Linked DNA regions of Homo sapiens. The protein of the gene in region 1 purifies or fractionates together with the protein of each later gene. This does not show direct contact. Each region holds a gene or a part of one and is shown on either strand. Other genes may lie near its edges.

Evidence for each region.
Region 2: the proteins of DMTN (region 1) and NUP188 purify together in Homo sapiens (affinity purification with mass spectrometry, with the first as the bait; one large-scale study listed by BioGRID). This does not show direct contact.

Annotation. Positions count from the first base shown.
Region 1 is NC_000008.11:22,055,280-22,059,682, forward strand, and holds the start of DMTN (dematin), read left to right. Parts: upstream 1-1,534; 5' UTR 1,535-1,857; intron 1,858-2,584; exon of another isoform or gene 2,585-2,686; intron 2,687-3,800; exon of another isoform or gene 3,801-4,217; intron 4,218-4,403. UniProt on the Homo sapiens protein: Membrane-cytoskeleton-associated protein with F-actin-binding activity that induces F-actin bundles formation and stabilization. Its F-actin-bundling activity is reversibly regulated upon its phosphorylation by the cAMP-dependent protein kinase A (PKA).
Region 2 is NC_000009.12:128,999,399-129,003,198, forward strand, and holds part of NUP188 (nucleoporin NUP188), read left to right. Parts: intron 1-225; coding exon 226-407; intron 408-2,130; coding exon 2,131-2,331; intron 2,332-2,485; coding exon 2,486-2,578; intron 2,579-3,418; coding exon 3,419-3,577; intron 3,578-3,800. UniProt on the Homo sapiens protein: Component of the nuclear pore complex (NPC), a complex required for the trafficking across the nuclear envelope. Required for proper protein transport into the nucleus.

The DNA.
Region 1 (4,403 bases):
GAACCCAGGTCGGGGTGCGGCGGGGATCAGGAATTCTAAAGGGCTGAGGTGTCAAAGCCCCAAGTACCTGGTCCGCTGGAGGGACCGAGAGAGATCATCTAGGGCTGGAGTGGGGCTGGGGCTTCCCCTCTGTCTCTCAGACTCTGATTAGAGGGAAGTAAGGGTGGGGTTGAAGGTACAGAAAGCCGAGAGGCTGGGCTGAGGCCGGGCTGGTTGTGGAGCGATGGCTGGAGTGGCTCCTCCTCCAAGGCTGTGCCCCTTTCTGCCACATTGAAGGTATGCCCCCTCCCACATCACTCTCCTGGCCTTTTTCTCTGCAGTTCCATGGATCTGATGCTTCATCCCCCACCCCCAGGTTTTCTCTACCTTCACAGCCACCCCCGCCTGGCTGCAGCAGCTCAGCCTGTGTTCTGTCTCCCTTCTCAGCCACCTGCCTCCTTCCTTCCTCCCTTCTCTCTGGAGCCCATCCCTCAGGTTACTGTCCTCTCTGTCCCCACCAGCCAGATACTTTCTGTCCCCTCCTGGCCTCTTCCCTCAAGCCCCTCCCCCTGTGCTTCTCCATTCAGACACCCCAGAGCCCCCTCCCCAGATTCTAGATTTCCCCAACAACAGCTGATACCATCAGCTGACCGGCTGGGGGCAGGGTTGCCAGGGCAACGGTGAGGGCTGCCTAGGTAGGCAAGTCTGCGGTGTGGAGGTGGAGAGGACATTGGGGCCAGGGCGAGGGTCGAGGGCAAGGCTTGTTGTCCTTCCCCATCCTGCCCAGGGGGCCCGAAAGGCCAATGAGAGGCTCCTGGGGTGGTTGAGGCTTTGCTAGAGACAGGGAAGGCACATGCCTGTAAATTCTGTGCTGGGACCCAGGGGTTACCAGGCAGGAAGCTCCTTTTTCATGAAGCCACCCTAGGGAGAGATGGGGTCCTTCTCTCTCTCTGCTGCATCCCATTGGAGTTCCCAGGGGATTCAGGTTACTGAGGGGCCAGCTCAAGTCTCAGTACTGAGGACCTGGTTGCATCCCTCCATTCTACCCTCCCAGGAGAGAGCTCATCCTTGGGTAACCAATTCTGGCCTGTGCCTGCACCCCCACCTCAAGAGGCTGGGCCCCAGAGGCCTCAGTTGCTGCTGTCAGATGGTGGGGTGGTCATGAATAGGGTAGGAGGTGCAGGTGCCTGGAGAAAGCAGGCATTGTCCGCCTGGGTCATCAGTAGCCCCCTCCCTCGACCCACCGCCCACAGCAACTTGAACTCTGGCTGTTTAGGAGGAGGCTGAGGGGCTCTGGGTGCGTGTGGGTGTGTGTGTGCGTGTGAGTGCTGCAGACTGCGGTGTGGGAAAGGGAGAGGACAGTGCTGGCTGATTCTGCTTTGTCATGACGCTGGGTTAATGCTCCTCTTGTTTGAAATGGATTGAGCTGCAGCGCTGGTGGAAGAGCGCGCACATCCACACACACACCCTTGCCAGCCACACGCTATCAGCTGGAAGTGGGGAGGGCGCGGGGAGGGCGTGGGGGAGCCAGCAGCCCGCCCGCCCTCCCGCCCCCAGACGAGGACTCCCCAGCACCGGGGGATCCAGGCGGCCGTGCGTTGCAGAGAAGCAGGGTGGGGGCAAGGAGGGTGGGGGCCCAGAGGGGAGATCAGACCGCTCAGCCGAGACCAGCTCCCCTCCTTCGCCAGCTCCCACCCCGCCCACCCACCCTAAGCCGGCATTTTTCCTGTTATTTGTGCTCCGGGGAAGCGCCGCGGGGTTCCTGGAAGAGACACCTATTACCTAGGCTCCTGGGGGAAGTGACAGCCCGTGGATCTGGCCTACGCCTCTCGGGCCTCTGTGGCCTCAGAGCGTCTGGGCCACACTGTCTGGGAAGAGGTAGGTGGCAGGGTCTCCGCCTCTCCTCCCCTCTGTGGGCACTCTGGGCCACAGCGCTTGCTGGCGAGCCAGGCTTTGGGTGGCAGCAGGGTATCTGGGGGGAGCCCACTGTGGGCCCTGTTCAGTGGGAGGATGGGCCGGCCCCTGGGACCAGCTGGGCCTGATCTAATGGAACCTTCTGATCTGGGGAAGAGGGCCTGGGGTGTTCTCATCCCAAGGATGAGAACTGCTCCCAGCCCAATCCCCTCTTTGCCAGCATCTCTGCCTGGCCTACCTAGCTGAGCAGGCCAGCAATGGAAGGGATGGACTGTGGGGGCACGGGGTGGGCAGGGGAGCATTCCCTCTCTGCTGAATACTGGCCCGCTGGCCTCCCCAAAACCACTCCACATGCTCTGGGGGTTGGAGCAGTACATTTAGGGGCCTGAGGCTGTTTGTTTGGAGCCTGCTTTTTAGGGGGAGTGGGAGGAGAGCCTGCCCCCAGCCAGTGGCTGGCCAGGCTGGGGTGGGGCTGAGTGAAGAGTGAGGCTGTGGCAGGGCGCAGCTGCAAGCCCAAGCCCAGTACTCCCCCTGTGCCCGCCGCTGGGGTGCTTGAAGGGGCCAGGGCTGAGCAGACATGCAGCCCCCACAGGGTTCTGGGGCTCCCCCTCCCTAGCTCTGTCCCTCAGGGCCTAGCAGGTCCAGCCCCCTTTCTTGGGCAGACACACCCAGTGTGTCCCTTCCAGGGACCAGTTGCCTGGTTGTGAGAGTCAGGGGAGCAGGGACAGGTCCAAGACAAGGAAGGCAGTTGGGCTGTGGGAATGGGGAGCCCAGGGAAGGCCTCCAGAGCTGGGTAAGTGGAGGGCTCTGTGTATGTTGCTGTACACGTGCACTACTCTGGGATGGATGCCAGGGAGAGGACCGGTGGGTGGGTGTGAGCGGGTGTTGGCAGCACCATGTGTCACAGTGAGGGGGCCTCGATGGGAGAGTGGGGGCATGAGCTGGCACACAGGGCTTCGGAGTCTCCCCGCGTGCATGCGTCCTGCAACGGTTTCAGCGCGGGCGCTTCTGCCTGTGCCCACCTGTCCATCTTGTGTCCGTGCTGCCGGCCTCTCTGTGGTCAGGCGTTAGACTCCTGGGTGAGGTTGTCCACCCGTGGGTGGATGTCTGCAGAATCCCTCTCCTAGAGCTCCTGGGTGTTGTGGGACTGGAACAGGGAGGCCCTGGGATCCAGAAAGCTGAATTGAGGCTGCATCTCCCCCAGCTCTGCCAGTCCCACTTGTACAACAGGACCAGCTATAAATGGAGGGGAAGCAGTCCGCCTGAGGGGGCTGCAGGATGCAGAAAGCAGAAAGCGGGGTCTCTTCAGAGGGTGGGTGGAGAGGGCACATAGAAACCAAACCAGAGAGAGACCTAGGAGAAGATGGCTGCACAGATGCGTCTCTGGGTGGGCTAGAGAGGCAGGAGGGGGCACCTGGGCCCGGTTTTGTTGTTATTGAGAGAACAAGGGAGGGCAGGCCTTGAGCAGGGGGACTCTGGGCTCCCCACCCACCCAGGCCTGGTCCTTTATCCGAGTATGAGAGGGTGCCCTGTAGTGCTGGGTTAGGGGAACCCTCATCCCAGCAGACACAACGGTAAAAAACATTGGAGTAGGGGAGAGGGAGAAAGTGGGAGAAGAGGAGGGAGTCCCCAGGCTCTGCCAGCCTTAGGACAGACTTGGAGTTCAGGCTTCGCCTAAGTAAGGGACACCTCTGATGAGCCACTGGCCCAGAGCAGGCCTCAGCCTCCTGGTGTCCTTTTCCAGTGGCGGGGGGGTGCGGGGAGCAAGGTGCCCTACCCCACCCACATCACACGCATGCACAGCACCCATGGGAGCGCCTGGCCCCTGCCCTGCAGCGCCGCACTGCTCCACCCTCCCTGCCCCTCCCCACCCAGGATGCTGTTTTGGGAACTGGTGACCTAGCTGGATTCTGCCTTTATTTCTGGCATTGAATTGTTGCCACAGTAACTGCGGGGGTGGGGCTGGGTAGGGGAGAGGGTGAAAGGGAAAGAGGGAGGGAGGGAGAAAAGATGAAGAAAGCCAAGAAAAGGGACCAGAAGAGAAAGCAGAAAGACAGGAGGAAGAAAGGGAGAGAGGGCCAGGCAGTCGCACTGTGAACAGAACAGGAGAAGGCGAAGCGGGGCAAAGTTCCCTGCCCACCGACGCCAGCCTGCTTGGATGACTTGCCTCGTTTCATAATTCACTTACTGTCTGCACCAGCCGGCCTCCAGCCTGGCTGGACCCTGCTGCCTGTGTGGCCCGGAGCCAGAGGCCCCCACACTCCCAGCTGCTCTTCTACAGATGCCATCAACGAGCAGGACTCTGGGTGGCTCCACTGTCTAAGGTTAGCACGTGGGACCCCCAAGTCCCACATTTTGATTGAACTGGGATCTTTGGTACTCATTGAAAAGAGCACTTGGCTTTGGCCTCAGGCAGGCCGGGGTAGGGATTCTGGCTTGGCTTCTATTTGGGGGGCCTTCGGCAAGTTCACCTCTCAGCTTCATTTTTGCTCATCTCTAAATGAGGAGAA
Region 2 (3,800 bases), on another chromosome or scaffold:
GGCCACACATTTCTTCTGGGACTTTTGAGTTTCCAGTCATGGAATTCTTACCCCAAGAAAGCTATTTTTTTCCCTCATGTGTCTCTCCCTCCTCTCCCACTGGACAGATGCTGTCCCTCCTAGCGCCCTAGTACATCTCCAGCCCCTTCCTAGGAAGGAAACCTTGGTGTACAGTGAGAGTTGGCCTGGTGAGCATGACAGTGTCCCTCCCTGTCTATTCTACAGTAAGTGACATCCCCCAGTACTCCCAGCTGGTGCTGAATGTCTGTGAGACCCTCCAAGAGGAAGTGATTGCACTCTTCGACCAGACCCGCCACAGTCTGGCATTAGGCAGTGCCACAGAGGACAAGGACAGCATGGAGACTGACGACTGTTCTCGGTCCCGGCACAGGGACCAGCGTGATGGGGTGAGACAGTGCCCTAGAAGGCCATCCGTCCTTTCCACTGCCCGCCAGCTCTGTGCCTGACTCTGGGGATAAGTAGTGATCAAGACAGATAGTCGCTGCACTTCTGGAGTTCACGGCCTGGTGGGAAAGGTTAATAGATCAGACACTGCAGAAAAGCAGAAGCAGCCCATTGTACTGCAGGAGAGAAGTGCAGGGAGAACTTAGTCTCACTTCTGACTTGAACTGGGACTTAGGTGCCTTTTCAGCAATGACTTAGAGATTGTAGCCGCGGGCAAATGCAGGATCCGAAGTGAAATAGGAAATGATGTAAGGCTTTTAAGCAGGGGAAAAAGTTGATCTGATTTTTACTCTAGAAAGATCACTCTGGACTTAAACTCCAGGCCTCAAGCCATCCTCCCAGTTCAGCCTTCCAAAGTGTTGGGATTACAGGCGTGCCCAAGAAAGATCACTCTGGATGCAGTATTGAATAGTATTTTTCAAATTGTGGGATCATGACCTATTAGAGAGAGTCTTGAAATTAGCACATTTTGTTACAACCAGTCTCGCTCTGTCGCCCAGGGTGGAGTGCAGTGGTGCGATCTTGGCTCACTGCAAGCTCTGCTTCCCAGATTCACGCCATTCTCCCACCTCAGCCACCCGAGTAGCTGGGGCTACAGGTGTCTGCCACCACGCCCGGCTAACTTTTTGTATTTTTCATAGAGACGGGGTTTCACTGTGTTAGCCAGGATGGCCTCGATCTCCTGACCTCGTAATCCGCCCGCCTTGATCTCCCAAAGTGCTGGGATTACAGGCGTGAGCCACCACGCCTGGCCACAACCAGCATTTTTTTAAAATAAAGTAGAATAAAGTGTTTAAGAAAATATCACTGTGCTTTGTGTGACATTAGGGTAGGTATTATTAGTGAAAAACTGTAAACGTGTACATGAGGATACAGTCTAAAAAGTCTTTATGGGCCGGGCACGGTGGCTAACGCCTGTAATCCCAGCACTTTGGGAGGCCGAGGCGGGCAGATCATGAGGTCAGGAGATGGAGACCATCCTGGCTAACACGGTGAAACCCTGTCTCTATGAAAAATACAAAAAATTAGCCGGGCGTGGTGGCGGGCACCTGTAGTCCCAGCTACTCGGGAGGCTGAGGCAGGAGGATGGCGTGAACCCAGGAGCGGAGGTTGCAGTGAGCCGAGATCGCGCCGCTGCACTCCAGCCTGGGGGACAGAGCGAGGCTCCATCTCAAAAAAAATGTCTTTATGACTCTGGGTCATGGCCAAAAAGAAGGTTGAAAGGCCACTGGTACAAGGATAGATTAGAGAGGATGGAGCAGGATTATTTAGGAGATGGTTGCAGTAGCAGAGCAGGAGGTGGCATCGGGCAGGGTCGTAGGGGTCCCTCAGACTCCATGTGGCAGAGTTGGTTGGAGTGTCCAACATGAGACGAGGTGGCTCTGACAAGGGTGGTGGCAGTGTGGGAGGTGGGAGGGAAGAGGCGGGGGTAGCTCTGGTCAGTTTAGGGTTGCTCATTAGATTGGCTGGAGTTGCTGCTGTTCATTGAGAGCTGGACATAGGAGAGGGGCAGGGTGGGAGAGAGTGTGCATTCTGTGTTACTCAAGCTCACTTAGCAATGTGTGTAACCAAGCAGGTCTTGGGCAACCAGGCCCACCGCTGCCTGTCGTCCTCTTCCTCCTCCTCTTCTTCTTCCCCCTTTTACTCATCTTTGCCTCTGGGCAGGTGTGTGTCCTGGGCCTGCACCTGGCCAAGGAGCTGTGTGAGGTAGACGAGGATGGTGACTCCTGGCTGCAGGTAACCCGCAGGCTCCCCATCCTACCCACCCTCCTCACCACTCTAGAGGTGAGCCTTCGCATGAAGCAGAACCTGCATTTCACTGAGGCCACATTGCATCTGCTCCTCACCCTGGCTCGCACTCAGCAGGTAGGAGGCCAGCCCGAAGGCAGGAGGGAGCGTCCTTGCTTGCCTGGGTGGGTTCTGACAATCCCAGAAGCTGTGATCTAGCCTGAGAGCCCTACCTACCCTAGGCAGGGCAGGGGCAGGCTCCATCTCATTTCCTGTCTTTCCCTCCTCCCAGGGAGCCACAGCAGTGGCTGGAGCTGGCATCACCCAGAGCATTTGTTTGCCCCTTCTGAGTGTGTACCAGCTGAGCACCAACGGCACAGCACAGGTGAGTGTCAGGAGCTTGCCAGGAGGCCCAGCCTGACCACCCTACAGTTCCAGTTGAAAAGTGTCCTCCCCTACCTTTCCCCGGAAGTTGCTTTCCTCTAAATTGCCTAATACACTGATGGTGAGGAATCTTCCCTGCCCCCAGGCGGATCTCTAGCAAGAGAAACTCACCACTAAAAGGCACCGCCTGGCCTTTGTGCACTACCTCTGGGAGATGGGATGGATTCTTCCCATTGCAGGTGTGAGGAAGACTAAACCAGATTGATAACACATCCCTGGACCAGGCCTCTAGCCAAGGCAGCTGTCCTCTCCTGTCATTCCCAAAGACAGTGTGTCATTGTGACTTCTCCACCCCTGCACCACCAGACCAGGACTGGGAGAAGGGAAGTGGGTGGTCTGGGGGCTTGATGGGGCCTCAGCACCCTGCCCTCTGTGTCCCTTGGTTATTTCTAGTTTAACAGATACCTCCTAATTTCAAAAGAGTAGTCTTCACCTGAACCTCTCTCTCTCATGAGAGTCGTGAAGTATTTGGTCATCTAGCCCAGCTACCCCTTAGAGGAAGTATGTAGGGGCCAGAGCAGGGCAGTGACATGTCCAGGTTCGCATAGCTCGTCAGTGGCAGACCTGAGTCTGGAACCCTGGGTCTTGTGTCTCAGCCTGGTGCTCTTTCCTTGAATCTGCTGGTGTTGGCCCCTTTCTGGCCCTGGTGGCCAGACAGTGGCTGTGTCTATTCTGGGAGATCTTTTCCTTTCAGCGCAGCTGGGCTGCCTTAGTTGCTGTACTACAAGGAGGTCCTGCCTCTCAGCAGGGTTCCTGAGCTTGTCTGCTGTTTGTATCTTAGACACCTAGTGCCTCTCGGAAGTCCCTGGATGCCCCCTCTTGGCCAGGAGTCTACCGCCTGTCCATGTCCCTGATGGAGCAGCTGCTCAAAACTCTGCGCTACAACTTCCTGCCTGAGGCCCTGGACTTCGTGGGTGTCCACCAGGAGCGGACCTTACAGGTGAGGGGCTGCCTGCATTGCAGGGGTGGGAGTTTCAGGGTAAAAAAGGTACTGGGCCATTCATGGGGCAGGTGGGTGTGGAGCCTGGGCCTCAGTAGCGGAGGGTTGTCGATGCCTTCATTTTTGAGATGCTCTAAGTACTCTGCTGGCTCACTGGCCAGCTAGTCTGCTGAAGGACGGGAACGGTCTCGGGTCAGAATCCTGGTTGTACCACTAAGCCATT